3 linked regions of the Homo sapiens genome follow. The protein of the gene in region 3 interacts with the protein of the main gene of each other region in a pairwise test. Each region holds a gene or a part of one and is shown on either strand. Other genes may lie near its edges.

The links.
Region 1: the proteins of ZSCAN22 (region 3) and ZSCAN1 interact in binary tests that used the Homo sapiens proteins (3 or more experiments, as listed by UniProt).
Region 2: the proteins of ZSCAN22 (region 3) and PGBD1 interact in binary tests that used the Homo sapiens proteins (3 or more experiments, as listed by UniProt).

What each region holds. Positions count from the first base shown.
Region 1 is NC_000019.10:58,035,271-58,045,246, forward strand, and holds part of ZSCAN1 (zinc finger and SCAN domain-containing protein 1), read left to right. Parts: exon of another isoform or gene 1-699; 5' UTR 700-741; exon of another isoform or gene 742-1,212; coding exon of another isoform or gene 1,213-1,223; intron 1,224-2,457; coding exon of another isoform or gene 2,458-2,566; coding exon 2,567-2,936; intron 2,937-5,179; coding exon 5,180-5,274; intron 5,275-9,169; exon of another isoform or gene 9,170-9,976. UniProt on the Homo sapiens protein: May be involved in transcriptional regulation.
Region 2 is NC_000006.12:28,289,897-28,299,872, forward strand, and holds part of PGBD1 (piggyBac transposable element-derived protein 1), read left to right. Parts: intron 1-6,919; coding exon 6,920-7,049; intron 7,050-7,490; exon of another isoform or gene 7,491-7,627; intron 7,628-7,998; coding exon 7,999-8,095; intron 8,096-9,976.
Region 3 is NC_000019.10:58,322,455-58,332,797, reverse strand, and holds the start of ZSCAN22 (zinc finger and SCAN domain-containing protein 22), read right to left. Parts: upstream 5,805-10,343; 5' UTR 5,684-5,804; exon of another isoform or gene 4,259-5,683; intron 1-4,258. UniProt on the Homo sapiens protein: May be involved in transcriptional regulation.

The sequences.
Region 1 (9,976 bases), 290 kb from region 3:
GCCACCCATCAGTCCAGGACTCTCATCAGCTCAGGTACCCCCACATTGGCCTAGGTGTTCCACATCAGCCCCCATATAGACCCCAGACACACCCATGGACCTCTGGTGCCTTCTGCTAAGACCTCCTCTTTACCCTCATCCCTGATAAACTTAGCATCTCCTCCCACAGACCTCAGCCCAGGACCCTGGAGGATGCTGAGGGGCTACAGCCCCCCTCCCTAGAGTCTCCAGGGTGAGCTGCCATGAGCACCTGAGAGAGTATAAGGTCTGAGGCCCCAGGGCAAAGGGATTTCTTGAACCTGTGGAGCTTCAAAATAGGCCCTTTTTTCTTATTCAAAACTACATATATAAAAGTGTGAATACAACATAAGAGAGCATTTTTGCCTGTGGCCTTGGCAGGGAAGACCAAGCTGGTAGTTTCCCAATCAGGGTGCAGGTGGCCGGGTACGCTGACTCGAAGATGGCTGGCTGGGCACAGTCCCCGTGAGTTGCCTTTCTGCCACCCTGCACCTCTCCTTTCTCCTGGATTGTAAAACCAGATGCACGAGAACTGCAGAGTGTATGAAAAATGCAGCAGAGGATGAAGAGGGAAAAATCCCATGGAATCCCTCCTTTTCACTTGTCATAAGCATTTCCCATATGGTCAAAAATCCTTCCTAAAGATGTCTTGTTTTGTTTTGTTTTTCCATGTTGATGAAGGTCACATGGGAGCCCGACACCATTTGGAGGAGATTCAGAGAAGTATGAACAGCACAAAGCACTTGGCCGCCCCCCATGGGCGTCTTCCCAGGACTCCCTTTCTATGACACTCACGCATCATCCTGCATCCCACGTTCCCTGTGCCTCATGTCATCTGTACATCATGTGTCTACTCCCCGTGGTCATGTCATAGTGTTGTGTACTGGGCACGGTTGAATACTCCCATCACATGATGGGGGAGGTAGTTGATCCCACCACGTTCAACTGTTGGGCACTTTTGTAGTGAATCTTGGTGCCTGAATCTCGCATCTTGCACGCAGTCTACCAAGTGTTCTTGATATATAAATGGCCACAGTGCTTTCCAGAAAGGTCGTGCCAATTTATATTCTCACCAGCGGATCAGTCCAGAGTACAATTGTTAAAGACAAACAAACGAAACCTCCCTGCTTATTTTTATTTTTACAACTTTTAATGTTTTCTTCAGTTATATGTTCACCATAGTCGGCTTGGAAAATGTACAAAAGGTAACTTCTTTTTTTTCTTTTCTTTTTTTTTTTTTTTTTTGAGACAGAGTCTTACTCTGTCGCTCAGGCTGGAGTGCAGTGGCACAGTCTCAGCTCACTGCAATCTCCGCCTCCTGGGTTCAAGCATTTCTCCTGTCTCAGCCTCCCGAGTAGCTGGGATTACAGGTGCGTGCCACCACGCCCAACTCATTTTTGGTTATTTATTTTTTTTGGGATGGAATCTCACGCTGTCACTCAGGCTGGAGTACAGTGGTGCGATCTTGGCTTACTGCAACCTCTGTTTCCTGGGTTGGAGCAATTCTCCTGCCTCAGCCTCCCACGTAGCTGGGATTAGAGGTGTGCACCACCACGCCGGCTAATTTTTGTATTTTTAGTAGACGGGGTTTCGCCATGTCGGTCAGGCTGGTCTTGAACTGCTGACTTCAGGTGATCCACCCACCCGGGCCTCCCAAAGTGCTGGGATTACAGGTGTGAGCCACGGCACCCGGCCACAAAAGGTTATTTTAAAATTACTCTTCCCACTTTCCCTCTCTTTTCAGAGTCTCCAGTCTCCCTTGCCCTCTTCCTGGTCTCCACCCCCAGCTTGGACCTGGTAGGAAAGTCAGGAAGACAGCAAAGATAACACCATGGGTAGACCTGCTGCTGGTGGTGGTGTCATCCATTATTATGTAGCCCACCTGGCTGCTTCCATTTAAATGGAATTTAAATTTAAAATTCAGTTCCTATTTCAGGTGCTCCTAGCCACACGTAGGTGGTTGCATGGGTAGAGAATCTTTACATCCCTGTAGGAACTTCACTGGGCAGTGCTGGCCACACCACGGGGCAGGCATTCTTGTTCCCGCAGCTCGTCAGTCAATGTGTGTTGAATGACTAAATGAGAGGGAGATAGACACTAAGTAAGGGGAAAAGTTGTGTTCAGAAAGTCATGGAGGTTATGAAGACAGTGCCATAAGGATGATGGCCAGGACATCTGCGAGGGGAGGAGCTGGGGTGGGAAGGGGAGGGGCTGGGGTGGGATGGCAGGTGCAAAGGTCCTGGGGCAGCCAGTGGCTTGAACTCAGTGCAAAGTAGCCTGTGAGAGGCATGTGGAAGATTAGGTCAGAAGGTGGGAAGAGGTCAGGTTGGTTCCTTGGGGTGCTGGAGGTCAGAACAAGGAAGTAAGGAGCCGAGGGGCATCCTGAGTACAGAGGGCCACCATCTGATGTGACCCCTCTGTCCCTGCCCCTCTCTGCAGGCCCCTGATTGCTGATTCTGTCCGCCTGCCACACCGGCTCTGTCCGGAGCCACTGGGACTCGGGATCCAGTCCACACACACCCCTCAGAGGGGCACTGTGGCCAGAGAAATGCTTCCACGGCCCAAAGCCCCTGCCTCCCCCAGACGCCCCCAGACCCCAACCCCGAGTGAGCAGGACGCAGACCCTGGGCCAGCAAGCCCCAGGGACACCGAAGCCCAGCGTCTGCGCTTCCGGCAGTTCCAGTACCACGTGGCGAGCGGGCCGCACCTCGCGCTGGGCCAGCTCTGGACGCTGTGCCGCCAGTGGCTGAGGCCCGAGGCGCGCTCCAAGGAGCAGATGCTGGAGCTGCTGGTGCTGGAGCAGTTCCTGGGCGCGCTGCCCAGCAAGATGCGGACCTGGGTGCAGTCACAGGGCCCCCGAAGCTGCAGGGAGGCCGCCAGCCTGGTGGAGGACCTCACACAGATGTGCCAGCAGGAAGGTGAGAGGCGCAGGCTTCCTGCCCCGGGCCGGGCCAGGGGGCCTGACGTCTCCGAGGACCGAACTGCCCTCCTTCCCGCCCACATCGCTCCCACCCCTGCCCGGCCCCTCCCGACCAGCAAACCTCTCCTGCCCCGCGGCTGTGTTTTTAATTATTTTTACATATAAATGTGCTGCACGCCTCATCTGCCTCGAATTTCTCACTCAGTCGGTGATTAAAGATCCCTCCATTTCCCATGCGTCCATCTGTCCTGTGGCTTTGTGTCTGCTGCTCCTCACGGCTGCTCTCTGGGAAGGACGCTGCCTCGCCACTTCCTCCCAGCCACCTGCAGCGCCTCCTGCAACACTCAGGAATCCTAGAGATCCTTAAGCCTTCACAGGGCGCAGGCCCCATCGCTGGCTGATGGTGGGGAGAGACGCTTAGGTCTGCATCCCGACTCTGGGAGCTGGGAAATTTGGGGTTGAAACTGGGCTCCCTCCCTGTCTCCTCTCTCAGCTCCCCTCTCCCCTGACAGGGCTTTGTCCTTCTGCATCTTTGCCCCTGTGACCCCACGTCGAGATTCCATCCACCCAGGGCCCAGTCCCATGAGTGGGGCTCTTTCTTTCCTAGTGACAAAAGTGCAGGGATTGGACACTGGGAGGCCAAAAGAGGCAGCCACGGATGGTGAGAGCAGTCGTGGCACTGTGGCCTCGGGAGGGCTTCCCCAGCAGGGCCCCAGCAAGGAGGGTGCCAGGCAGCCACGCTGCAGGAGCAAAGGCTGGGAGTGAGAAGGGTTGCATCAGAGCTCACAGAAAAGAGGGGTGGAGCAAGGGAGAGGAACAGGCCCTCCCTTTGCACCCTCCCACTACAGCATTTCCGTAGACCAACAGTGATAAGCAGTTTGCAGAACACAGGGTCCAGGGTCCCCTTACTGCCCCAGGGCAGCCGGTGCCACACTTAGGAAAGCTGTGACAGCTGAGCTTTCCAGAGGCTCAAGGGTAGCCCTGTAAGCTGCAAGGCAGAAGCCAGATGAATTGGCCCTTTGAACTCTCTGATCCTGGGGTAGAGGGCCCAAGAGCACTGGCTTCTGGCGCTCTGTGGACCTCACAGCCATCCCAGCCCAGAGCCACCCTTGCTAGTTTTAATGTTCCATGGTCACTCTCAAAATTCAACGTTTTTGAGCAAAGGGCTCTCTATCTGTCTTCCATAGCGGTGGTCTGCTTTCTACATTCCATATTTTGAGCCTATGAAACAGTAGAGCAAGTATAATGAACAGCCCTGCACCGGCCACCCACCCTTATCAAAGCCCAACCTAGGAAATGCTTTGTAATCTCAGCACTTTGGGAGGCCAAGGCAGGCGGATCACAAGGCAGGAGTTCGAGACTAGCCTGGCCAACATGGTGAAACTCCGTCTCTACTAAAAATACAAAAATTAGCCGGGCGTGGTGGCGCGTGCCTATATTATATCCCAGCTACTCAGGAAGCTGAGGCAGGAGAATCGCTTGAACCCAGGAGGCGGAGCTTGCAGTGAGCCAAGATCACGCCACTGCACTGCAGCCTGGGCGACAGAGCGAGACTCCGTCTCAAAAAAAAAAAAAAAAAAAAAAGGAACAACCAGTGGAATCAGCTGAACCCCCATGCACGTCTCCTAGTCCTGTTGTCCCCCGCTCTGCCTGACACCCCAGAGGTGGCCGTGATCTTGAATTTTTCTTTTTTTAATTAAAAAATAAATAGGGGGGGGTCTTGCTGTGTTGCCCAGGCTGCTCTCAAACTCTTGGGCTCAAGCAGTCCTCCTGCCTCAGCCTCCCAAAGTGCTGGGATTACTGGTGTGAGCCACCACGCCTGGCCTGGTTCCCACGTCTTGACCCTTCTGTCAATGGTGTCCTGAACCCTGCTTCAGCAGTCGTCCTCTGTGCACTCTGTGCACACAGCCCCGGGGGGCTTGGGGAGCAGAGGGCTCACAGTGCTCGGGCCTCCCTAGTTAGTCAGTGCTGCAGTGTGTGTCCTCGTGGGCTTCTGGAGGCGCACAGGGGTGTGGAGTATGAGTGAAGAGGGTACTTGTCTTCAGCGGCCCTCGGTGTCACCACAGGTTCCTGCCCAGCAGCCACATGGAGGGACAGAATGACAGCCCTGCAGCCACTCTTGCCTGCGCCTCAGGGGTGCTGCAGGGATGTTCGGGGAAAGTCTGCCCTCCCCAGAAGGCCTGGAGAATTGGGGGCTCTGGGAAGAACAGGCCCCTCTCACGATCCCTTTCTCCCGCACAGTTCTGGTATCTCTGGACTCGGTCGAACCCCAGGACTGGAGTTTCGGTGAGGAGGAAGATGGGAAGAGTCCAAGGTCCCAGAAAGAACCATCGCAGGTGAGCCCGGGGCCCCCAGCTCCGTGCTCCTGCACCCCAGGGCATGCGTGCCGCTTCTGGGACGGCCTCAAGGATGCCCCATCCAAGGACTGTGTGAGGTTGTCCCCAGCGCTCCCAGGAAGCCCGGCCTCCAAACTCCCCGCCTGCCCCACAGATTCCCCAAGCTTCCTGGGGCTCAGTGCTGGGCGAGGGCAGTCAGTGCAGCTGTGTGTTTGCTGTGTGCCTCTGGGCCTCACCCCAGCCCCTCCTGTCCTTTCCCAGCCTCGCAGTTAAGACCCATCCTCCTGTGTCACCCGCACCAGATGCTGCGTGTGTTGAGAAAGTCCTGCTGCCCCGATCATCTTCCCTCAGTGAACCCAGGATTCTGGGCGGGCCCAGAAGGAAATGCTGAGGGCTCCCCTGCAGCTAGACCTGCTGTTGCGCAGGCCTCAAGGCGACGGGAGGGGCCCGGCTCGGTTGGGAGCCAAGCGGATCTCTGTGTGGCTGGAGAGATTAAAATCAGGGGTGGGGACACGCAGACACATGAGAGAAATCCAGGGGTAATGGGTAAATCACAAAAGAACAAAAGTAAGAACTGCTAAGTGAGTAGCATGTGTTCGTATGATCAGGGCTACTGAGTTTGACCACTTTCTGCCTCTGGATCTTGGTATTGGAGCCGCCAAGGGAAACACAGCACGGTCGAACAATGAATGGAGCAAGGTTTTGCTCACAGACCAGAGACCGGGCCAGAGCACCATCTGCCCATGTGGCTGTCAGGCCGGGGCCAGCAGGTCCCTCCTAGAGGGGTCCTGACCTAACAGTGGGGCTGTCTAGGTGCCACGTGAAGCACACGCCTGAGCAGAACAAAGGGGCACACATTGGGAAACAGAGACCTCCACACGAGGCACTACACCCAGCACAAACTGGGGGGACCCCTTATCTCTTGGTAAGGAGATGTTCTAGGCCCAGGACCCACTCTCAGGCAGCCAAGTAACAGGCTGAAAGACTGCACATGTGTGTCTCCCACTGGCTTAGTCCGTTCTGGGTGCTGTAACAAAATACGGCTGGGTGTGGTGGCTCATCCCGGTAATCCCAGCACTTTGAGTGAGGCCTCACGGGAGGCTGAGGTGGGAGGACCACTTGGTCCCAGGAGTTCAAGAGCAGCCTGGGCAACATGGCAAGACCCCATGTCTTAAAAAAAAATGAGCCAGGTGTAGGGGTGTGCACCTGTAGTCTTAGCAACTCTGGAGGCTGAGGTAGGAGGATCACTTGAGCCCAGGAGTTCAAGGCTGTAGTAAGCTATGATCATGTTTCTACACTCCAGCCTGGATGACAGAGTGAGACCCTAACTCAAAAAACATCAACAGCCGGGCACAGTGGCTCACGCATGTAATCCCAGCACTTTGGGAGGCTGAGGCAGGCGGATCACAAGTTCAGGAGTTCAAGGAAGAAGGAAGTAACTTGTGGAATGCTGAGAAAGGTAAAAACACCTTCAAATAAGGAAGAGGAACAGGCTATGACCTAATGCTTGCTTGGACCAGTATAGGCACACCAGGGCAAATATTTAGGCTAAATTGTGGGAGCTAAGAACATAAAGTACATTGATTTTTTTTATTATGGCTAGCAGATATATAAGAATGTTAGCACAGGTCTTTGAATAAATTTTGCTTCTAAGAGAAGTTACTATTTATTCCTAATTAGATGGGGAGGAAAGTCTTTGAAGAGGAACTTCTACTTTACTTTTTTTTTTTTTTAATGGAGTCTTGCTCTGTAGCCCAGGCTGGAGTGCAGTGGCGCGATCTCGGCTCACTGCAAGCTCTGCCTCCCGGGTTCACGCCATTCTCCTGCCTCAGCCTCCGGAGTAGCTGGGACTACAGGCGCCCGCCACCTCCCCGGCTAATTTTTTTTGTATTTTTAGTAGAGACGGGGTTTCACCGTGTTCACCAGGATGGTCTCGATCTCCTGACCTCGTGATCCACCCGCCTCGGCCTCCTGAAGTGCGTGAGCCATCGCGCCCGGCCCTAAAATAGATTTAAAGATCATCATGAGAGCCCCTCTCCTGCACCAAAACAAAGTTTCGTGGGCCGTGGTTTCTGTTTCTGCATCTAACGGAGGCATCTAACCTGGGTAGACCACAGTTGTTGGCCACGGGCTTCCTCAGCCGCTGCCGGCAGATGTGCTTATCTGACTCCCTCTCCCATCCCAGACGCCACGTGGAAACCACAGCCGCGCTCACAGGCCATCCCCTCACCACACGGCAACTCCAAGGACTCTCTTTTTGCGGGGGTCGTAGGTGGGGAAGGCTGCTGAGGTCCTCCCACCCCTCTCCCACCAGGGCCGCTGTGGCTGAGAGGATCCTCGTTGGCGCTGGTTTAGGCTGTGGGGCTCAGCCACAGCAGGGTGCCCCAACGTCCCTGAGCGAGCTGCACTTGTGGAGGGAGAGGCCTTAGGCCTGAGGCCTGGCGCCCGCGTGGAGAGACGGCAGCTCCGGGATCGGGGCGCTGGTGAGCGCGGCCCCAGGCATTGCCGCTGCCAGGGTGCTAACACTGCCTGAGGCACCTCTGCTTTTGAAGTCGCCGGGGATTAGCGGGAGCGTAGGTGAGGGACAGGTGGAGCTGCTCTGCGCGGGGCAGCCCGGCTCGCCAGGAGGCGCTGTGGAGTGGGCACGACTGGCGATCGCTGAGCGCATACAACCGCCTACCATCGGAAGCCTTTTGAGAAATGCTTCCTTAGGCGGTTTCGTCACCGTGCATACATCGCAGAGGGCACTCACACACCTACACGCACAGCCCATGGCTCCTAGGCTACAGACCTGCACAGCACGGGGCTGCACTGAATACTGTGGGCAACGGTAACACAATGTTGTTTGTGGATTTAAACATAGAAAAGGTACAGTAAAAATACAAAATAGAAGATAAAAAACAGTACACTTGTATAAAGCACTTGCCAGGAAGGGAGCTTGTGAGACTGGAAGTTGCTCTGGGTGAGTCTGAGTGGTGAGTGAATGTGAAGGCCTGGGAGGTTATTGTGCTGTGGACTTCATAAACATGGTGCACTTAGGCTACTAAATTGGCAACTATATTTCCTTCTTCAATATAATTTATCTTACTGTAAGTTTTTGCTTTACATTTTTTTTTTCTTTCTTAGACTGACTCTCACTCTGTCACCCAGGCTGGAGTGCAGTGGCACGATCATGGCTCACCGCAACCTCAACCTTCTGGGCTCATGCGATCTTCCTACCTGAGTCTTCTGAGTAGCTGGGAACACAGGCACACATTACCGCACCGGCTAATTTTTATATGTTTTAAAATTTTTTTAGTTTTTGTGTAGATGGGGTTTCACTATGTTGCCCAGGCTGGTCTCAAACTCCTAGGCTCAAGCGATCCTCCCTCCTCAGCCACCCAAAGTGCTGGAATTACAGGCGTGAGCCACTGTGCCTGGCGTAAAAAACTTTCTGACTCTTGGGGCCGGGCGCGGTGGCTCACGCCTGTAATCCCAGCACTTTGGGAGGCCGCGGCGGGCGGATCACTAGAGGTCAGGCCTTCGAGACCAGCGTGGCCAACATGGTGGAACCTCGTCTCTACTAAAAATACAAAAAAATAGCTGGGCGTGGTGGTGTGCACCTGTAAGTCCAGCTACTCCGGAAGCTGAGGCAGGAGAATCGCTTGGATCCAGGAGGCGGAGGCTGCAGTGAGCCGAGATCACGCCATTGCACTCCAGCCCGAGCAACAGGAGCGAAACTCCGTCTCAAAACAAAACAAAACAAAAAACAACCTGTGTCATTTTAAAATAAATAAATGATACATCATTATCCCACAGAAAGGTTATGCTCTGGGGGCAGCAGAAATAAAAGCTTTGTTTTAAAGAAGCGGAAGAAGGATTAAACCTTTTTAAAAACCAAAAACATCGAAGCTGGGCGCCTCCTGTCCGAGGCCAACCGCTGCCGTCAACCGTCCGCACGGACGGCGCCTGAGGAGCCACCGAGACGGCGAAGAGCCGCGGCCGCCGCGGAGAAGGAGGAGGAGCCAGCGCAGGAGGCCCGAGCGGCCGCCACGCCCGGACACACGGCGTCCATCTTAATGAGGAGCTGCCGCGGCTGGGCGCCCGCCAGCCTCCCGCCGCCGCCTCGGGTCACCGCCCCGCGGGGTAGTCCGGGGGATCCTGCTCATCTCAGCTTGCCAGCACCCTGGGGTTGAGGAGCTGCCCGAAAGTTTCATTTGGCTGCTGCACTCCCACCCACCCTGCCTACCCGTGCTTCAGAGGCGATCACCTCAGCTGTTGGACTCTGAGGCCCGAGTGCCTTCGCACCGTGTCGAGAGCGCCATGGACCTCCACCTCTGTGGGTTTTGTGGTCCTGGGGCCTCGGTGCCTTCCTGCCCGCGGCTGGCACTCTTCGCGCCCTGTTGGTGATGACTCGGTAGTAGAGAAGTCCCTCAAGTCCTTGAAGGACAAGAACAAGAAGCTGGAGGAAGGCGGCCCTGTGTACAGCGCCCCCGCAGAGATGGTGGTGAAGTCCCGGGGGCAGAGAGGGTGCTGGGCGAGCTGAGGCACTACTACCATGGCTTCCGCCTGCTACGGATCCACACCAAGATCGCAGCACGCATGCTCTGGCGCATCCTCAACTGCCACACCCTGACCCGCCAGGCGCGCAGGCAGTTGCTCCGGTTCTGTGCCGACCTCTTCCGCCTGGTGCCGTTCCTCCTGTTCGTGGTGGTGCCGTTCG
Region 2 (9,976 bases), on a different chromosome or scaffold from region 3:
CTGTGTGTTTCTGCCTTTGTTTCTACTCTTGTATTTGGGATCTAAGATAAGTTGTTATCTCTTTAAAATAACTTATTATATCTGAAGGTCTTCTTTGTAAGCCTCATGATAACTACAATGCAAAAACCTATAATAAATTCACTAAAAATAGCAACAAAGGAAGGCATACTATAAGAGAAAATCACTTAGCCACAGAGGTTTTTTGTTGTTGTTGTTTGAGATAGGGTCTCACTCTTTCACTCTGGCTGGAGTGCAGTGGTATCATCTCAGCTCACTGCAACCTCTGCCTCCCGAGTTCAAGTGATCCTTCCACCTCAGCCTCCCAAGTAGCTGGGACCACAGGTGTGTGCCACCATGCCTGGGTAATTTTTTGTATTTTTTGTAGACCTGGGTTTTTGCCATGTTGCCCAGGCTGGCTTGAACTTCTGGCCTCAAGCAGTCTGCCCACCTTGACCTCCCAAAGTTCTGGGATTACAGGCGTGAGACACCATGCCCGGCTGTATATAACAATTATAAATACCTATGCATGCAACACCAGAGCTCCCAGGTATATAAGGAAAACATTAATAGATCTAAAAGGAGAGTTAGACTGCAATACAATAATAGTAGGAGATTTTAACACCCCACTCTCAGTAATTGACACATCATCCAGACAGAAAGTCAACAGAGAAACGATGGAATTAAACTACATGCTAGATCTAATAAGCCTAACTGATATTTACTGAACATGTAACCCAACTGCTACAGAATGCACATTCTTTTCATCAGCACGTGGGACATAAGAATAGACCATATCTTAGGCCACAAACAAATCTGAACAAATTTTTAAAAAATATAAATCATATCAAGTATCTTTTCTAATCACAGTGGAATAAAACTAGAAAGCAATAACAAGAAAAACCTTGGAAACTACACAAACGCGTGGAAATTAAATAGCATGCTTCTGAACAACTAATTTGTCAGGGAAGAAATTAAGAAGGAAATGTAAAAATGTCTTGAAACTAATGAAAATAGAAAATGTGACATATCAAAATTTGTGGGATACTGCAAAAGCAGTACTAAGAAGGAAATTTATAGCAATAAACACCTATATCAGAAAAGTAAAAAGACATCAAATGCACAACCTAATGATACACCTCAAGGAACTAGAAAAGCAAGAACAAACCAAACTGAAATTAGTAGAAGGAAACAAATAAAGATTAGAACAGAAATAACTGAAATTGAGACCAAAAAAAAAAAAAAAAAACCCAGAAGAACAATGAAACAAGAAGTTGGATTTTTTTTAAAAGATAAACAAAATCAAGTCTTTAGCTGGACAAACAAAAAAGGAGAAGACCCAAATGAATAAAATCAGAAATGAAAAAGACATAACAGCTGAGACCTCAGAAATACAAAGAAACCATTAGAGACTTATGAACAACTATGACAATAAATTTGAAAACCTGGAAGAAATGGATAAATTCCTAGATGCATGCCAACTACCAAGATTGGACCATGAAAAAATAGAAAACCTCAGCAAACCAATAACAAGTAACGAGATAGAATCTGTAATAAAAAGTCTTCCATCAAAGAAAAGCCCAGGACCTGTTGGCTTCCCTGCTGAATTCTACCAAACATTTAAAAAGAACTAATACCAATCCTATTCAAATTCTTCAAAAAAAAAAAAAAAAATTGAAGAGGAGGGACTACTTCCAAATTCATTCTAGGAGGCCAGCATTGCCCTGATACCAAAACTAGACTAGGATACAAAATAAAAAGAAAACTACAGACCAACATCACTGATGAGCATAGGTGCAAAAATTCTCAATGAAACACTAGCAAACTGAATTCAACAACACATTAAAAAGATCATTCACCATGATCAAGTGGGATTCACTCCAGGGATGCAAGGATGGTTCAACATATGCAAATCAATAAATGTGATATATCACATTAATATAATCAAGAACAAACACCATATGATTATTTCAATAGATGCTGAAAAGCATTTGATAAAATTCATTGCTTTTTGATAAAAACCCTTGTCAAAATTGGTATAAAAGGAACATACCTCAAAATAAGGGCCATATATGACAAACCTACAGCTAACATCAAACTGAAGGCCTTTTCTCTAAGGACTGGAACAAGATAAGAATGCCCATCTCACCACTGTTGTTCAACATAATACCCGAAGTCCTGGCCAGAGCAATTATGCAAGAGAAGGAAATAAATGGCATCCAAACCGGATAGCAAAAAGTCAGGTTAGTCTGTTCGCAGATGATATAATCTTATACCTCGAAAAACCTGAAGACTACACCAAAAAAACTGTTAGTGCTGATAAACAAACTAAGTAAAGTTGCAGGATAAAAAATCAACACTCAAAAATTAGTAGCATTTATATACTTCAATAGTGAACAATCTGAGATAGAAATCAAGAAAATGATCGCATTTACAAAAGCTACAAAAAATATAAAATACTTAGGGAATTTAAATACTAAAAATTTAAACACCAAATTAAGTTAAATTTAGTGTTTAAATTCCCTAGGCATTTTATATTTTTTAGTATTTTATTTATAATTTATAATTTAGCATTTAATTACTAAAGAAGTGAAAGACCTGTATAAGGAAAACTAAAACTCTCATGGAACAAATTGAAGAGGACACAAAAACACTGGAAAGATATTCCATTCTAATGGATTGGAAGAATTTATATTATTAAAATGACAATACTTCCCAAAACAATTTACAGATTCAGTGTAATCACTATCAAAATACCAATGACATTCTTCACAAAAATCAGAAAAAAAAATTCATGTGGTGAGCCCTTAATCTAATGACTCATATTCTTATAAGAAGTCCATATTTGCAAATTGACCAAGGGGTTGAAAAAAAAGAAAGAAAAATGCCCAAGTGAAAACACACACAGGGAGAATGCCATGTGATCACTGAGGCAAAGATTTGTATAACACATCTGCAAGCCGAGGAACACCAAGAATTGCTGACAAACACTAAAAACTTGGAGAGAGGCAAGGAAAATTATCCCATGGAGCTTTTTTTCTTTTCTTTTCTTTTCTTTTTCTTTCTTTTTGAGACAGTCTTGCTCTGTTGCCAGGCTGGAGTGCAGTGGCGCGATCTCAGCTCACTGCAACCTCTGGCTCCCTGGTTCAAGTGATTCTCCTGCCTCAGCCTCCCGAGTAGCTGAGATTACAGGCAAGCGCCATCACGCCCAGCTAATTTTTGTATTTTTAGTAGAGATGGGGTTTCACCATGTTGGCCAGGATGGTCTCGATCTCCTGACCTAGTGATGTGCCCACCTTGGCCTCCCAAAGTGCTGGGATTACAGGCATGAGCCACCACGCCAGGCCTCCCATAGAGCTTTCAAAGATAACATGGCCCTACTGATATCTTGATTTTGGATTTCTAGCCTCCAGAGCCATGAGATAATACAATTCTGTTGTTTTCCACTATTGAGGTTGTGGTACTTTGTTACAAGAGCCATAGGAAAGCAATATAAGTTACAAAACAAATTATGGACTGATAAAGGGAGAAAATAAGGAGGTATGATATTACAGATACACTTCCTTCATTGTGTTTCACTTTATTGTGCTTTGCAGTATTGAAAGTTTGTGATGACCCTGTGTGGAACAAGTCTGTCAGCACCATTTTTCTACAGCATGTGCTCACTTTGTGTCACATTTTGGTAATTCTTAAATTCTTAAACGTGACACTCTGTGTCACATTTTGGTAATTCTTAAAATGTTTCAAACTTTATTGTTATATCTGTCATGGTGATCTGTGATCAGTTATTTTTGATGTTACTATTGAATTTGTTTTGGTGTGCCACAAACCATGCCCGTTTAAAATGTCAGACCTAATCAATAAACATTGTATGTGTCCTGACTCCTCCATTGACCAGCTGTTCCCTCATCTCTTTTCCTTTCCTTGGTCCTTGCTATGTCCTGAGACACAATAATATTGAAATGAAGCCATTTATAATACTACTACTACAGTGACCTCTATGTGTTCAAGTGAAAGGAAGAGTCACATGCCTCTCAGGTTCAATAAAAAGCTAGAAGTGATTAAGTATAGTAAGGAAGGCATGTTGAAAGCCGAGATAGGCCAAAAGCTAGGAGGCCTCTTGTGCCAAACAGGCAGGTGGTGAATGCAAAGGAAATGTTCTTGAAGGAAATGAAAAGTGCTACTCTGGTGAACATATGAATGATAAGAAAGCAAAAAGCTTTTTGCTGATATGGAGAAAGTTTGAGTGGTTTGGATAGAAGATCACACCAGCCACAGCATTGCCTTGAGCCAAAGGCTAATCCAGAGCACATCTCTTACTCTCTTCAATTCTGTGAAGGCTGAGAGAGGTGAGGAAGCTACAGAAGAATAATCGGAAGCTAGCAGAGGTTGGTTCGTGAGGTGTAAGGAAGAAGCCATCTCTATAAAATGCATCAGCAACAAGTGCTGATGCAGATGCTGCAGCAGGTTATCCAGATCTAGCTAAAATCACTAATGAAGGTGGCTACACTAAACAACAGATTTTCAATGAAGATGAAACCACCTTTTATTGAAATAAGATGCCATCTAGGACTTTGATTGCTAGAGAGGAGAAGTCAGTGCCTGGCTTCAAAGCTTCAAAGGACAGCCTGACTTGTTAGGGGCTTACGCAGTTGGTGATTTTAAAGTTGAAGCCAGTGCTCATTTATCATTCTGAAAATCCTAGGGTCCATAAGAATTATGCTAAACCTACTCTGCCTGTACTCTAGAAATGGAACAACAAAGCCTGGATGATAGCACATCTGTTTACAGCATGGTTTACTGAATATTTTAAGCCTACTGTTGAGACATACTACTCAAAAAAGAAAAAAAGATTTCTTTGAAAATATTACTGCTTATTCACAGAGCACCTAGTCACACAAGAGCTCTGAAGGAGAGGTACAAGGAAATTAATGTTTTCAAGCCTGCCAATACAATACACATTCTGTAGCCCATGGATCAAGGAGTAATTTTGACTTTCAAGTCTTATTATTTGAGAAATACATTTTTTAAGGCTATAGCTGCCATAGATAGTGATTCCATAGATAGTGATGGATCTGGGCAAAGTAAATTAAAAACCTTCTGGAAAGGATTCATCATTCTAGATGCCATTAACATTTGTGATTCAAGGGAGGAGGTGAAAATACCAACATTAACAGGAGTTTGGAAGAAATTGGTTCTAACACTCATCATTGTCTTTGAGAGGTTTAGGACTTCAGTGGATAGTGTAGCTGCAGATGTGGTGGAAAGGACTAGTATTAGAAGTGGAACCTGAAGATGTGACTGAATTGCTACAATCTCATGACAAAACTTGAACAGATAAGTTACTTCTTATGGGTGAGAAAAGAAAGTGGTTTGAGATTGAATCTACTCCTGGTGAAGCATTGTTGAAATGACAACAAAGGATTTAGAATATTAAATAAACGTAGTTGATAAAGCAGCAGCAGGTTTGAGATGATTGACTACAATTTTGAAAGAAGTTCTACTCTGGGTAAAATGCTATCAAACAACATTGCATGCTACACAGAAATCTTTTGTGAAAGGAAGAGTCAATCAAGGTGGCCAACATTACTGTTGTCTTATTTTAAGCAACTGCCACAGCCACCGAAACCTTCAGCAACCACCACATTGATTAGTCAGCATCGTTCAACATCGCAGGAAGCCCCTCTACCAGCAAAAAGATCACAACTCTCTGAAGGCTCAGATGATTATTAGCATGTATTAGCAATAAAGTATTTTTAAATTAAGATATATACTTTTTTAGACACAATGCTTATGTACGATTAATAGACTACATAGTATAGTGTAAACATGACTTTCACATGCACTCGGAAGCCAAGAAATTTCTGTGACTTGCTTTATTGTGATATTTGCCTTATTGTGGTGGTCTGGAACTGAACCTGCAATATCTCTGAGGTAGGCCTATGTTTAAATGAGGTGGGCTTTGCCTTTTATTATCAAAATAATTATCTGTAGTTTGGAATAGGGTGATGATGAGTTAAAGAGAAAACATCTTCTGTCTTGAAACCCCCTCCTTGTCAAAACAGATATTCATTCTCTAAAAGACTGGCACTGTGTCCTTTTTCAGGCAACAAGAAAGAGAAAGTAGATTGGAAAATGAGAGAAAATCAAGAGGCTAATGAAACCATGTGGTAGCCTTTTGGGACAGTGTCAGAGAGATAGAAAATCTCAGACAGTTCCCCAAATAAATAAATTCAGTGTATGATTTTTCCAGCCTACATATCATTACTAGCTTTGAAATGTTTTTAAACAATCTTTGTTGATGAAATTCAGTGAGATTTCTGCATTTACATTAGATTCCAAATCTGTTAAAAGGAGTCTCAAAACTCTGTTAGGTATTTGTAGTCAGTTTAATTGCATTTGTTATAACTGCAATATTATATTGAAGTGCTGTTCAACCAAATACATAGAAAATGCTGTAAAATAGTGTGTAGAACAATCCAAGTGAGTCAACTTTTGTGACAATGTCTTTAATCGATGTAAGCTTCCTTCTCTAACTTTCTTGAATTACTGACTTTTTTTCAGTATCATCCTATAAAAACTCTTCAGGTTTCCTATGTTTCAGTGTAGCTGATTTATACTGATTGTAGGTTTGGTTCAGGAGGACACTCAAAAGTCCTGCAGGATGTGGAAGAATTCTTTGTAGTGTGGGACTGTCCCACATATTTCAAGATGCCTAGCATCTCTGGCCTCACCCTCTGAATGGCATCGGCTTGAGGTGGTGGTGGACTTCATTGTTATAACCAGAAAGGTTCCCACAAGTTTACAAAATGCCCTGAGGGGCTGGGACTACCGGTCTACAGCGTGGTATTCAACACCCTTCACAACTGGATTCCTTACCATGTGAAAACAAAGAGGCTATTTTCTTTTTTTGTCTTTTTAGACATTGGTGAAGACTGAGGAAGAAACAGCCCAGGCCGTTGCTGCAGAGAAGTGGTCACATCTGAGTCTGACTCGGAGGAACCTCTGTGGGAACTCAGCTCAGGAGACAGTTATGAGCCTCAGTCCGATGAGTAAGGCCAGGCCTCTGGCTGGACCCCTGTCTGGACTCTCATTTTCCTGTCACTCACCCTGGCTTGGCCCTTGGGAGGCCACGTTTCCTACAGACCCACACCCTTCCTTTCCCTTCTTCTGGCCTCTGCCTCCAGACTTCTAGCCCTTATCACTTTGCATCCTTCCCAATCACATTTTCTTCTGTTACTAATCAGTTTACTGATTGTTGTGGTTATCTTCTCTGATCATCTCTTCTAGTTCCCTGATTCCTTCAGTGACTCCTTTGTATCCTTTTCCCCTTTTTTCTTCCCTGTCAAGGATTCCATATAACTTGTCTTTCAGATATCCCTTCATACTTGGAAGCCCCATGAACACCTCTGTCTGACCTTGTCTTTACCTCAGAGGAGGTCATCTTCACTCTCTAAGAACACGACAGTTCATGTTTATTTTATTTTTTTTAGTTTTTTTAAAGATGGGGTCTCGCTTTGTTGCCCATGCTGGAGCATAGTGGCACGATGATAGTTCACTGCAGCCTCAAACTCCTGGGCTCAACTGATCCTCCCACCTCAGCCTTCTAAAAAGCTGGGGCTACACCCAGGTAATTTTTTGTAGACACGGAGTCTCGCTATGTTGCCCAGGCTGGTCTTGAACTCCTGGCCTGAAGCAGTCCTTCCACCTTGGCCTCCCAAAGCACCCAGCCTAATTTTCTTGAAATGTGCTCTGCCCTGTTGGGCCCTCTCTGCAGCTGGGCTTTGGTGCCTTAATTAACCTTTCTTATCATTTTCCCATACCATGCCACATTTTGTAGGATTGCTGAAACTGTGCACCCTTGAAACACCAATATGATTTGTTTTTTGTTTGATTTGGAACATCTATTCCCTACCCTGGAAGTTTTTTTTTTTTTTTTTTTTTTTTTTTTTCAAAATTCACATAACAGATGACATTTAAATCATTAATGTTATATTTTAGCTGAAGAAATTGTAACTAAAGATAGATTGTTTAAAGCAAAGCAAGAAACTTCTGAAGAAATGGAACAAAGTGGAGAAGCCTCAGGAAAGCCCAACAGGTGAGTGTCCATGGTCCTCAGTGAATCAAATCCTGCAGATATAAGAAATTGGAATGGAATCAGAGAAACCAATTGGTCAAAGGCCTGCTTCTCTGGAATAAGATATGACAACTGCCACTCACTTCTGTGATCATAGGAGGTCCATGCCAAGAAAGTGACCTATTCAAAATTTTCAATATGCAATAAATATACAAAACCTTCAGTTGATACTCAGTTTCCTCCAAGAAGCCTATCCTGATCCAGTCTGTCCTGCTTGATTACCCTTCCCTGGGCTCCCTTACATTTTTATGGAGCTGTGGAGAAGCTAGAAGGCAGATAATTTAACAAGAATGAGGGCTACAGATGAAGCTGCCATGACAGTTAAGAAAGAAATGTCAGAGTGGAAGAGGACAAGCAGGGTACAGGTTGAGCATTCCAAATCTGAAATGTTCCAAAATCTGAGCTGTTTGAGCACCAGCATGATGCTCAAAGGAAATGCTCATTGGAGCATTTTGGATTTTGGATCTTTGGTTAGGGATGCCCAACTGGTATAATGCAAATATTCCAAAATCTGAAAAAAATCCAAAATTCAAAAATCTTCTGACCCCAAGCATTTCAGATAAGGGAAAATTAACCTGTATTTTCAACCGCCATTGGGAGACCTGAACAAGGTATAGGTCAAAAGGAAAGTTAGCTGATGAAGTAGAAATGAATGACAGTGGTGTGTGCTTCATAAGTGCTGGTTGTGGGAATGAATGAACTTGTAACAGATACTCCTATGCAAAGCAAGAAACTTCTGAAGAAATGGAACAAGGTGGAGAAGCCTCGGGAATGCCCAACATTCCGAGGCTTCTCAGGATTGCAGAAAGAGAGGGAACAAATCACAAGCAGAGGGTTGGCTTCTGGTGAGGCCATTTGGTCCTCAGAGACTTGAGAAAAGAGAGAGTAAGCAAGGTGGGCTACTTGGCCAAAGAGCTGAGAAGGGGGTGTGAATTTTCCTTATTGACATTTGTTTAACTTAGAGAAACTGGGAGCTAAATCTCAGCTAAAGTAGAAATGTCTTAAAGCTCAAGAGGAGAAGTGAAATTTTGCATTAAGATTAGTGAAGACTGAGCCAGGCTCCACTAAAGGAAGAGATATGATGTTCAGTAACTTAGAGCAGAGTTATGCAACTGGAGAATAGGAATCTGCTATTGTGCCTGTAGGTACATTTAGTATCAGGCAACTAACAGGTAATTCATAGTGCCTATAATAAAGATATTCATATAACAAAAAGTGTGAAGGTAGGCTATTTCAGGTTAGGTGCAATAGCTTAACCATGGTATCAAAGGTCTAGCCCCCTGCCCTCCTTCTAGTCCCCCTCCCTCACCCCCACCCCACTTTCTTAGCTCACTCTTTTTTCCCATTTCTCACTCCCATTTCCTTCCCTCACAATATTGGGCTTAATGCACTGTGGTTCTTAGAGTTTAGATGTCAACAGTAGAAAGACTCAGTGTGATCAAGGAATGTCACTGAAGTTATGGATGTCAGGGAACTTTAAGATGGATGTGTTGAATACATGCAGACACTGAAGACACCCTGGATGATAAACACTTTACATAAAGAAATGTATGTAGTGTAAATTATATTAAAATATACTCTTCATGCTTCTTAAATGTCTTTGAAAACTTGACTAGTTTACCAACAGAACACTAATAAATTAAATGCACATGTCTAAAAATTAAAAACTTTGTGTAAAATAATACTTTTCAGTTGGGTGCAGTGGCTCATGCTTGTAATCCCAGCACTTTGGGAGGCCGAGGTGAGTGGATCACGAGGTCAGGAGTTTGAGACCAGCCTGGCCAACACAGTGAAACCCTGTCTCTACTAAAAATACAAAAATTAGTTGGGCATGGTGGCACG
Region 3 (10,343 bases):
GAGTATATGTCCTCACAAAACTTTATACATAAATGTGCATAACAGCATTACTCATAACAGCAAAAAAGGAGAAACAATCCAAATGTCCACCTGATGAATGGATAAAATGCTGTATATACCTATAATGGAACACTATTCACCATAAACAGAAATGAAGTACTGATTAATGCTACAACATGGATGAACCTTGAAAACATGATGCTAAGTAAAAGAAGAAAGACACGGCAGGGCACGGTGGCTCACACCTGTGATCCCAGCACTTTGGGAGGCCGAGGTGGGTAGATCACCTGAGGTCAGGAGTTCAAGACCAGCCTGGCCAACACAGTGAAACCCCGTCTCTACTAAAAAATACAAAAATTAGCTGGGTGTGGTGGCAGGCACCTGTAATCCCAACTACTCAGGAGGCTGAGGCAGGAGAATCTCTTGAACTTGGGAGGCAGAGGTTGCAGTGAGCCGAGAGTACACCACTGCACTACAGCCTTGGCGACAGAGGTAGACTCCATCTCAAAAAAAAAAAAAAAAAAAAAAAGCATATTAGTGTTTGTCAGAGGCTGAAGAGAGACAAAAATGAGAGTGGTTGCTAATAGGTTTGGGAATTTCTTTTGGGGATGATAAAAATGTTCTGGAGGCCAGGCGCGGTGGCTCACGCCTGTAATCCCAGCACTCTGGGAGACCGAGGCGAGTAGATCACGAGGTCAGGAGTTCAAGACCAGCCTGACCAATATGGAGAAACCCCATCTATACTAAAAATACAAAATCAGCCGGGCGTGGTGGTGCATGCCTGTAATCCCAGCTACTTGGGAGGCTGAGGCAGAAGAAACCCTTTAACCTGGAAGGTGGAGGCTGCAGTAAGCCGAGATTCTGCCATTGCACTCCAGCCTGGGCAACAAGAGTGAAACTCCATCTCAAAAAATAAAATAAAATAAAAATACAGCTTTTAAAAAAATAATGTTGGCCAGGCACGGTGGCTCATGCCTGTAATCCCAACACTTTGGGAGGCCAAGCTGGGCCGATCACAAGGTCAAGAGATCGAGACCATCCTGGCCAACATGATTAAACCCCGTCTCTATTAAAAATACAAAAAAATTAGCTGGGCGTGGTGGCGTGTGCCTGTAGTCCCAGCTACTTAGGAGGCTGAGGCAGGAGAATCTCTTGAACCCGGGAGGTGGAGATTGCAGTGAGCCGAGATCACGCCACTGCACTCCAGCCTGGCAACAGAGACTCCATCTCAAAATAATAATAATAATAATAATAATAATAATAATAATAATAATAATAACGTCAGCTGGACGCGGTGGCTCACACCTGTAATCCCAGCACTTTGGGAGGCTGAGGCAGGTGGATCACAAGGTCAGGAATTCAAGACCAGCCTGGCCAGCATGGCGAAACCCCATCTCTACTAAAAATATGAAAACTAGACAGGCGTGGCAGCGGGGGCCTGTAATCCCAGCTACTTGGGAGGCTGAGACAGGAGAATTGCTTGAACCCGGGAGGTGGAGGTTGCAGTGAGCAGAGATTGTGCCACTGCACTCCAGCCTGGCCGACAGAGTGAGATTCTGTCTCAAAAAAAAAAAAAAAAAAAGTGCATTTGATAATTGTTGGGTGTTCTCTCCCTTATTTAAGTCAGGCCTCTACACAAAAGACGCCTTATCAGTAAGTCTCTGTGCTTCTACACTGCTTTATTTGCTCTTTACCACCTGATGTGTGATACACGTATGTGGTTACTTGTTTATTATTTACTTGTCCCTGTTGGAGTATCAGCACATTAAGGGCAGGGGTTTTTGTTTAGGTCTTTGCTTTATCCCCAGTGTCTACAGCATTGCTGGGCACATACATCAATAATAATACTTTTGTTCAGCACAGCCCCATTAGGTGCCTACTCTGTGCCCAGCACTGTACTAGGAATGCAAATACGGGGAAGGCATGGGTGCTGGGCTCAATGGCCTCAACGGAAGGACAGCGACCAACACATGATAAGATAATTATGATGATGGATATGGGTATAGTGTGCAACAGGAATAAAAGAAAATGGGAACAGACAGTCAGTGGGAACCTACCGGCTACCAGGCCACACTAGCCTTTGGCATCTGTTATCCCATTCAAGCCTTAGCTCCACCCTGTGAGTCAGTATTACCACTCCCATTTTCCAAGTTGGGGAAAGTCAGCTGCTAGAGTCATCTGGTCAGTAGGAACAAAGCTAGTGTTTGAGCTCAGGCTATCTGCGATCTTTCCTCCACACTCAAAGCCTTTCCAAATTCTAGAACTGTGAGCACTGAATGCTGGTCAGGGACAGCAAAAAACTACTTTCATGTACTATTGGTGAGGGCAATCAATTAGAATATCTTTGGCAAACAATTTGGCAGTATGTTGTAAGAGCTTTAAAATGACTGTGCTCTCTGCCTCAATATTAATTCTACTTCTCAGAATCTAGCCCCATTTCTAGATGGGGGTGCTACCGACATTCAGAGGGAGATAATACTTTCTTTTTGAAAAAATTCTTTTTTTCTCCAGACGGAGTCTTGCTTTGTCGCCCAGGCTGGAGTGCAGTGGCGCAATCTTGGCTCACTGCAAGCTCTGCCTCCTGGGTTCACGCCATTCTCCTGCCTCAGCCTCCCGAGTAGCTGGGACTACAGGCACCCACCACCACACCCAGCTATTTTTTTTTGTACTTTTAGTAGAGACGGGGTTTCACCGTATTAGCCACGATGGTCTCGATCTCCTGACCTCATGTTCCGCCCACCTCAGCCTCCCAAATTGCTGGGATTACAGGCATGAGCCACTGCGCCTGGCCGCATGTAGGCAATGCTTAACTTTTTAAGAAACTGCCAGGCTGTTTTGCAAATTGGCTATACCATTTTGCATTCCCACCAGTTGTGGATGAGGGTTCCAATTTCTCTACATCCTTACCAAGGTATTTTATACTATGGTAGTTCCCCCTTATCTGCAGGGGATGTGTTCCAAGACCCTCCAGTGGATGCCTGAAACCATGGATATTACTGAACCTTATATATTCTATATTTTTTTCTTATTATATACCCTTGATAAAGTTCATAAGTTAGGCATAGTAAGAAATTAACAACAATGACTAATAAAATAGAACAATTATAACAATACACTGTAATAAAAGCTATATTAATGTGGTCTTTCTCTCTCTCTCAAAATATTTTATTGTACTATATTCACCAAAACTGAAGATGAGGGGTGACTACTGTATTACTTTTCTTGACATTCTCTACTTCCCACAGTGAATTTGTTTTCTCTTATAGTCAGGAAGAATACCCTAAATTAAGTGTAACCTCTCCTAGGAGACCTCGACACTTTGCTTTGGCCACATACTACTCCTTACTCAAAGACTTAGCCTCTCCCTCTCCCATCCACGACTCCCACAGTTTTAAGTATTTGGAGTTCTTTTTCCTTTCCTTCAATGTCAGCCAGGACGCTCAGTGTGCCTGGAGTCTCTGCTCAAGGAAGTCACCCTGGACAGAGATGCAGGAGGCCTGAGAAAGAGCAATGGCCTTGGGCACAGGAAGAAGAGAACGTTACTCTAAAACAAGACCCCAATCCTGAAACCTTTTGGTGACCGCTGGTGACCTCTGGTGGCCTCTGGCCAAGCTGCGTTTAAGCCCCTTCGCCGCACTGTAAAGTTCTCCTGGGTCTCTTGTGGCCTTTCTAAGCCCCTTGTCGCCCCTGCTGCTCTCGAGTTCTGAAATCCGTCTCTGACGGATTCCTCTGGGCTCTCTAGGCCTCATCTTAGCTGCCACTTTCCTCAGGTGTCATCCCAGATACCTGGTACTAGTCTAAGTCCTCTTCCCAGAGTGCCCTGGGTAACTCTTTGCTAGTTCTGTACTGTTTCCTCAGAGAGGCTGGGCTGTCCTGGAGCCACAGCACACAGGACTTGCCCTATAGCAGGTTCACAATAAGCAGGCATTAAGCAAATGGAATGACCAGTAAAGGCTGAGCATGGTTACCCAAGAATGTAGGGAATCATGAGGGGAAGGAGGAGCAAGGGTGGCAGGGATGACAATAGATGCTGCAACAGCTTCCAAGTTCTCTTTTGCACCCCTGGAACACCTGTTCTGGAGAAATCCCTCATGACGGTCTCTGAAATACATGTATGTGAAACTTCCTCAGCCTCCTCAGCCAACCTCAACTCCTATCAGGTTGAGGTTCCCCATCCACAGCTGCTTTACCAACCAAGGAGGGTGGTTCTTTTCATTTCTCACACATGGATTATACCAAGCCTGATAATGGTACCTACCTCAGAGGGTTGCTATGAGATTATGTGAGGTGATTTATTATAAGTGTCCAGCACAGGCCTGGTGCACAGTAAACATGCAGTAGATGTATGGATACCATAGCCCCCTGCTACACGTAAGCAAACACTGGGGGACATATCCATAAGCCCAGCTGAATGACCACTAGTCACTCAGTTTCAGCTGCAGACATGGCAAAGCACAAATCCTCTCTCATATGCTTGGTAAACTGTTTGTGGATCACCCAAGTTTTAGTCTCCCTGATAAAAATCTCAGTCAATCAGATATTAACACATATTATCTCAGGTACAGTCTGTCAGCCACAGCCTTCAAAATACCCAGACACAGGAAATATCTCAATGTCACCTATAATCAGTCAAATAAACACAGGCCTGGCCAGGCATGGTGGCTCATGCCTATAATCCCAGCACTTTGGGAGGCCTAGGCAGGTGGATCACCTGAGGTCAGGAGTTCCGGGCCAGCCTAACCAACATGGTGAAAGCCCGTCTCTACCAAAAATACAAAAATTAGCCAAGTGTGGTGGCCGGTGCCTGTAATCCCAGCTACTCGGGAGGCTGACGCAGGATAATCGCTTGAACCCGGGAGATGGAGGTTGCAGTGAGCCGAGATTGCGCCACTGCACTCCAGCCTGGGCAACAGAGCAAGACTCCGTCTCAAAAATAAACACAGGCCCTCGCAGCATTTCCATCACACAGTATTATTCTGATCACAGTCATTCATAATCTTAGTCACCATCTCAAGGACACACAAAGAAAATCAGTCACACTTGAAATCCCACCGTCACACGCTCACCCTCTCACAGTATCTCACAACCCACGTAGGAAGTCTCAAACGGCAACCATCTCTGTCAGTCACACACTCCATGGTTAGTGTTACACTCAACCTATCAGAATCACACACTCCAACCCGTCAGATACACACACCCAAGAGGTGTCAGACACAGAACCGCCTATCAGACACATAAACGGGTCCGCCCCACACCCTCCCAGGCCACTGGTCCTACATTTTATCTGTTATCTGTCCGCCCGCTCCACACTTCGTCCGCCCCACACCCGGTCAATCAGTCCATCCGACACACACTCCGTCAGTCCGACACATTCTCCGTCGGTCCGTCCGGCACTCAGTGTGTCATTCCGCACCACATTCGGTCCGTGAGTCTGTCCACACCGGGTCCGTCAGTCCGTGCACACACGGTCCGTCCACGCCTGGTCCGTCAGTCCGTCACATCCTCTGCGCGTGTGTCCGGCACTCGCAGTCCGTCTACTCACGTCCCCTAGTCAGCCTCTCACTCTCTACCCGCTGGGCGGTACCCCGCATCTCGCTCTGGCCGCCCCAGAGGTTCGCGGCTTCTGGACCTGCTGTGCCCCTCTCCAGCCTGGATCAGGACGGAGAACACCCCCGAAACCCACCTCACCAGCACAGCCGGCGGACCCTTCCGGAGGTGGCCGCAGAGACTAGCCAACTTGCGCGCCCGCCGACCCGGACCACAGCTCCCAGCACACCTCAAGGGCCCACGCCCGCCAGGACTACAATTCCCGGCGTCCTCCGGAAGCTCAAGTGTACCCAGGCGCGGTGCCTGCTGGGAATTGTAGTTGACGTTGGTCAGCACGGAGGCCACAGGATCCCAGCCCGGCCTTTGTGGGACTGAGGTGGCGCTGAGTGGGAGAGCAGCAGGCGATGCGCGAAAGGCGGGACTTGGAGGTGAGGGAAATGTGAAGGCTGAGGGTGAGAGTGCCTGTGTGAGGCTGAGGGTGCCTGTGTGAGGGTGAGGGTGAGGGCGGCTGTGTGAGGGCTGAGGGCTGAGGGTGCCTGTGTGAGAGCTGAGGGTGCCTGTGTGAGGCTGAGGGTGCCTGTGTGAGGCTGAGGGTGAGGGCGGCTGTGTGAGGGCTGAGGGTGCCTGTGTGAGAGCTGAGGGTGCCTGTGTGAGGCTGAGGGTGAGGGCGGCTGTGTGAGGCTGAGGGTGGCTTTGGGAGGGCTGAGGGTGTTTGTGTGAGGGGTGAGGGGTAAGGGTGAGGCAAGAAAATCGGGTCTGGAGGCAGGGAACCTAAGGACTTCCTAGAAGTAAATCAAATGGAAACTGCAGCTATGGTAGGAAATATCCTCTCCATTTATGCAGGGCGTACATGGAGTAAATCACTTTGTAACTTTACTTCGTCCTCTTCATTTACATAGGGCATATACCAAGTAACCAATGGAAACCTCTAGAGGGTATTTAAACCCCAGAAAATTCTGTAACCGGGCTCTTGAGCCCCTATGCTCCGGCCTGCTCCCATACAGTGGAGTGTACTTTCATTTTCAATACATCTCTGCTTTTGTTGCTTCATTCTTTTCTTTGTGCATTTTGTCCAATTATTTGTTCAAGATGCCAAGAACCTGGACACCCTCCACCAGTAACAAGGGTACCTGGGTGAGAGGTGAGGGTGCCCATGTTAGGAGTGAGGGGAGAGGGTGCCTGTCTGAGGGCTTGTGGGTGTGAGTGTCTGTGTAAGTACTGAAGGTGCCTTTGTGAGAGGTGAGCGGTGTGGTTGCCTATGTCAGGGTGTGTATTGAGTGTAGCTATGTGTGGCTCTCTGTGAACACATGTAATCATTTTTATAAATGTGTATCATTTTTTACTGAATTTGAGCTGGGCGTCTGTCTGCATGAGTCACTCTGTGACCAGGTTTGTGGGTTGTTCTGTGTGCTTACTCTGCGTGTGTGTGACCTGTGATTTAATCATCATATGTGATAATCATGCAGCTGTGTTTGCCTGCACCAGGTGTAATTGTGTCTGAGACAGATACTTAGAGGTAATGGGGTGGACCTGACACAGTATAAAGGCCCTAGACTGTGTGTGATGTTGTTACGGTGACTGTGAATGGTAGTGTGATTGTGTGATTCAGTCGATGCCTGGACTGTGTGTGAGAATGTATCTTCTCTGTGTGTGTGTGTATGTGTAAGAGACATTGAGCAGGAGACTCTGGCTTGGGGCCCGATACATAGAGGTTGGTGGCCCAGCCTATGTTCAGGTGAGGCCTTTTTGAGGCAGGGTGTGTATGATTGCTTGGTGGTGCTGGTGGTGTTTCTTGGCCCCAGCCTGTGCTCACATCCCCTATTATTCTCAGACTTTGCCCTGCAGACTGCTAGCAGCTGGAATGAGCATATATTCTTTTCCTTCCACAGATAAATACTGAGCACCCACAACAGGCAGCCAGCACCACTGCAGATTGGATACTGCAATGATGATAAGCATGGCCTGCCTTTATGGAGGTGATGTTATTGTGTGGGGAGGCAGATGGTAAACAAAGAAGTCATTTTTCTGAGAAGTTGGTATTTAAGCTGAGGCCTGAATAGAGCGAAGAACTCAGGGAGAGTAAGTTCAAGGTAGATGGAACACAAATGCCCACGTCAGGAGGAGGCATGGATGAGGAAGACTGGCTGGGGTGGATTAAGGGAAGGAGATGGGAGGGGACAAGGACAGAAAAGGGAGGCCTGTGGGGGCAGATCTTGAAGGGCTTGTGAGCCACATACGACTTTGTTTATTTATTTTTTGTAGAGACAATGTCTCACTGTGTTGCCTAGGCTGCTTTTGAACTCCTGGCCTCAAGCAATCCTCCTGCCTCAGCCTGTCAAAGTGCTGGGATTACAGGCGTGAGCCACCACACTTGGCTCACATACAGACTTTGATTTCCACCTTGAGAGAAGTGGGAGCTATGGGAGGCCTTTGAGCAGAGGAGGGCTGTGCTGTGACTTAGCTCTTCATAGGAATTCTCTGGCCGCTGCAGGAGAAGACTGTCAAGATGAGAGTGGAGTCAGGGAGACCAAAGATGCAATTGCTTTGAGAGTACTGGCACCTGAGGCAGGTAGCTCAGATCAGGGTGGTCAAACGGTGGTGTGGTAGAGATGCTAACAGGTGGTCAGATCTGGATCTGTTTTGAAGGTGTATCAGGGGTGTCCACTCTTTTGGCTTCCCTGGGCCACATTAGAAGAATTGTCTTGGGCCACACATAAAATATACTAATGATGGCGGATGAGTTTATTAAAAATCGCAAAAAAAATCTCATAATGTTTTAAGAAAGTTTATGAATTTGTGTTGGGCTGCATTCAAAGCTGTCCTGGGCCACATACAGCCCGTGGGCTGTGGGTTGGACAAGTTTGGTATAGATGATAGGGTTGATGGGTTGAACTACAGTGTCCAAGGGGTGAGCAAGGCTGACCCAGGTGCCTGATAGTGCCCTCTGATTATGGGTGGGAGGAGGGTGTATTAGTTTGCTAGGACTGCCATAACAAAATACCACAGATTTGGTGGCTTAAACGATAGTTTAAAGTTTATTTTCTGGGCCAGGCACGGTGGTTCATGCCTGTAATCCCAGCACTTTGGGAGGCTGAGGTGGGCGGATCATGAGGTCAGGAGATCGAGACCATCCTGGCTAACAAGGTGAAACCCCGTCTCTACTAAAAATACAAAATAAATAATAAATAAATAAAATAAAATCAGCCGGGCGTGGTGGCAGGTGCCTGTAATCCCAGCTACTAGGGAGGCTGAGGCAGGAGAATGGCGTGAACCCGGGAGGTGGAGTTTGCAGAGATCCGAGATCACGCCACTGCACTCCAGCCTGGGCGACAGAGCGAGATTCCATCTCAAAAAAAAAAAAATTTTTTTTATTTTCTGACAGATCTGGAGGCTGGAAGTCCCCAGATCAAGGTGTCAACAGGTTTGGTTTCTCTTGAGGCCTCTCTCCTTGGCTTGTAGATGGCTGCCTTCTCACTGTGTCCTCACATGGCATTTCCTCTGTTTGCACATGCCCCTACTGTCTCTCTCTCCTTATAAGGACACCAGTCATGTTGGATTAGGACCCATCCATATCTTCTTTAACCTTAATTACTTATTTAAAGGTCTTATCTTCAAATACAGTCATATTCTGAGGTATACTGGGGGTTAGGACTTCAATATATGAATTTTGGGGGGACACAATTCAGTCCATAACGGGTGAATGGACAGTGGCATCAGTGTGGGGATCCTTAGACCCCTTTTCAGGGAGATTCTAAGGAGGAAACGAGCGAGATAGGGCAGCAGCTGGAGGGGACTCTGGTGTCAGGGAGAGGAAGAAGAGCCCTGGTTGACATTTAATGGGTATAGGGTGACTTGGAAAGCCAATGGAATCTCTCCTCATTGGCTCCTTTTCTGCCTAGATTGTGAGTCTGTGCTGTTAGGCCTGAGAGGGGTCCTGCCCTTTACATAGCCGAGGCCAGGGTATCCTTGATGCCTTGTACAGGGCTAGGTACTAAGAGTTGGCTGAGGAATGACTGAATGACTGGCAGACCAACAATGTTCCCTTGCCTGGAGCTGCATAGCTGGATTCTCCTCATTCATCTCCTGCACCCACCATGGCACCTGTAGTCAATACTGCAGACCTTGGAAGGCCCTTTCCCTTGGCCACCCCTTTTGTGCTTGTGCTCTGTTCAATCAGCATTCTGGCCTCTGGACTCTCCTGAGTGGATGCTCCTCCTTTCCTCTCTCCCTTTGTCTCTTTCTTATCCTCTCCCCAGATTTCAAACCTTATCTTTTTCAGGGAGTATTCACTTTAATTTGGCAATTGTATCAGCTATTGCTCTGTAACAAACAGCTACGACACCTCTGTGGCCCACAGCAAAAAAAGTGCTTATTTTTGTCATGTGTCTGAGGGTTGGCTGATCTGGGCTGGGCTCAGCTGGGCTTGGCTCTAGGCTGCAGTTTGGGTCCAGGTCTGCTGTATTTGTCTTGCAAGGCTCACAGGAAAAATTCTTCTCATCCTGATGGCAGAGACACAATGGGCTTTAGGCCTGGACTCAGGACTAGCATGCTATCACTTCCACTTAGATTCTGTTGGCCAAATCAAGTCACATGGCCACACCCAAACTCAAGGAATGGGTGGGGACATCAAATTTGCCTTTACTGGGAAGAACCATAAATATGGCCGTGGGTGTATATATGCAAGGAGCAGTGAAGAATTGAGCTAGTAATTCAATCCACTACAATAATACTTTTGGTTTCTTTTCCTTCCATGTAGAAAGCCAACAAAATCATTTGTGACCCTGGTTTCTTTCAGT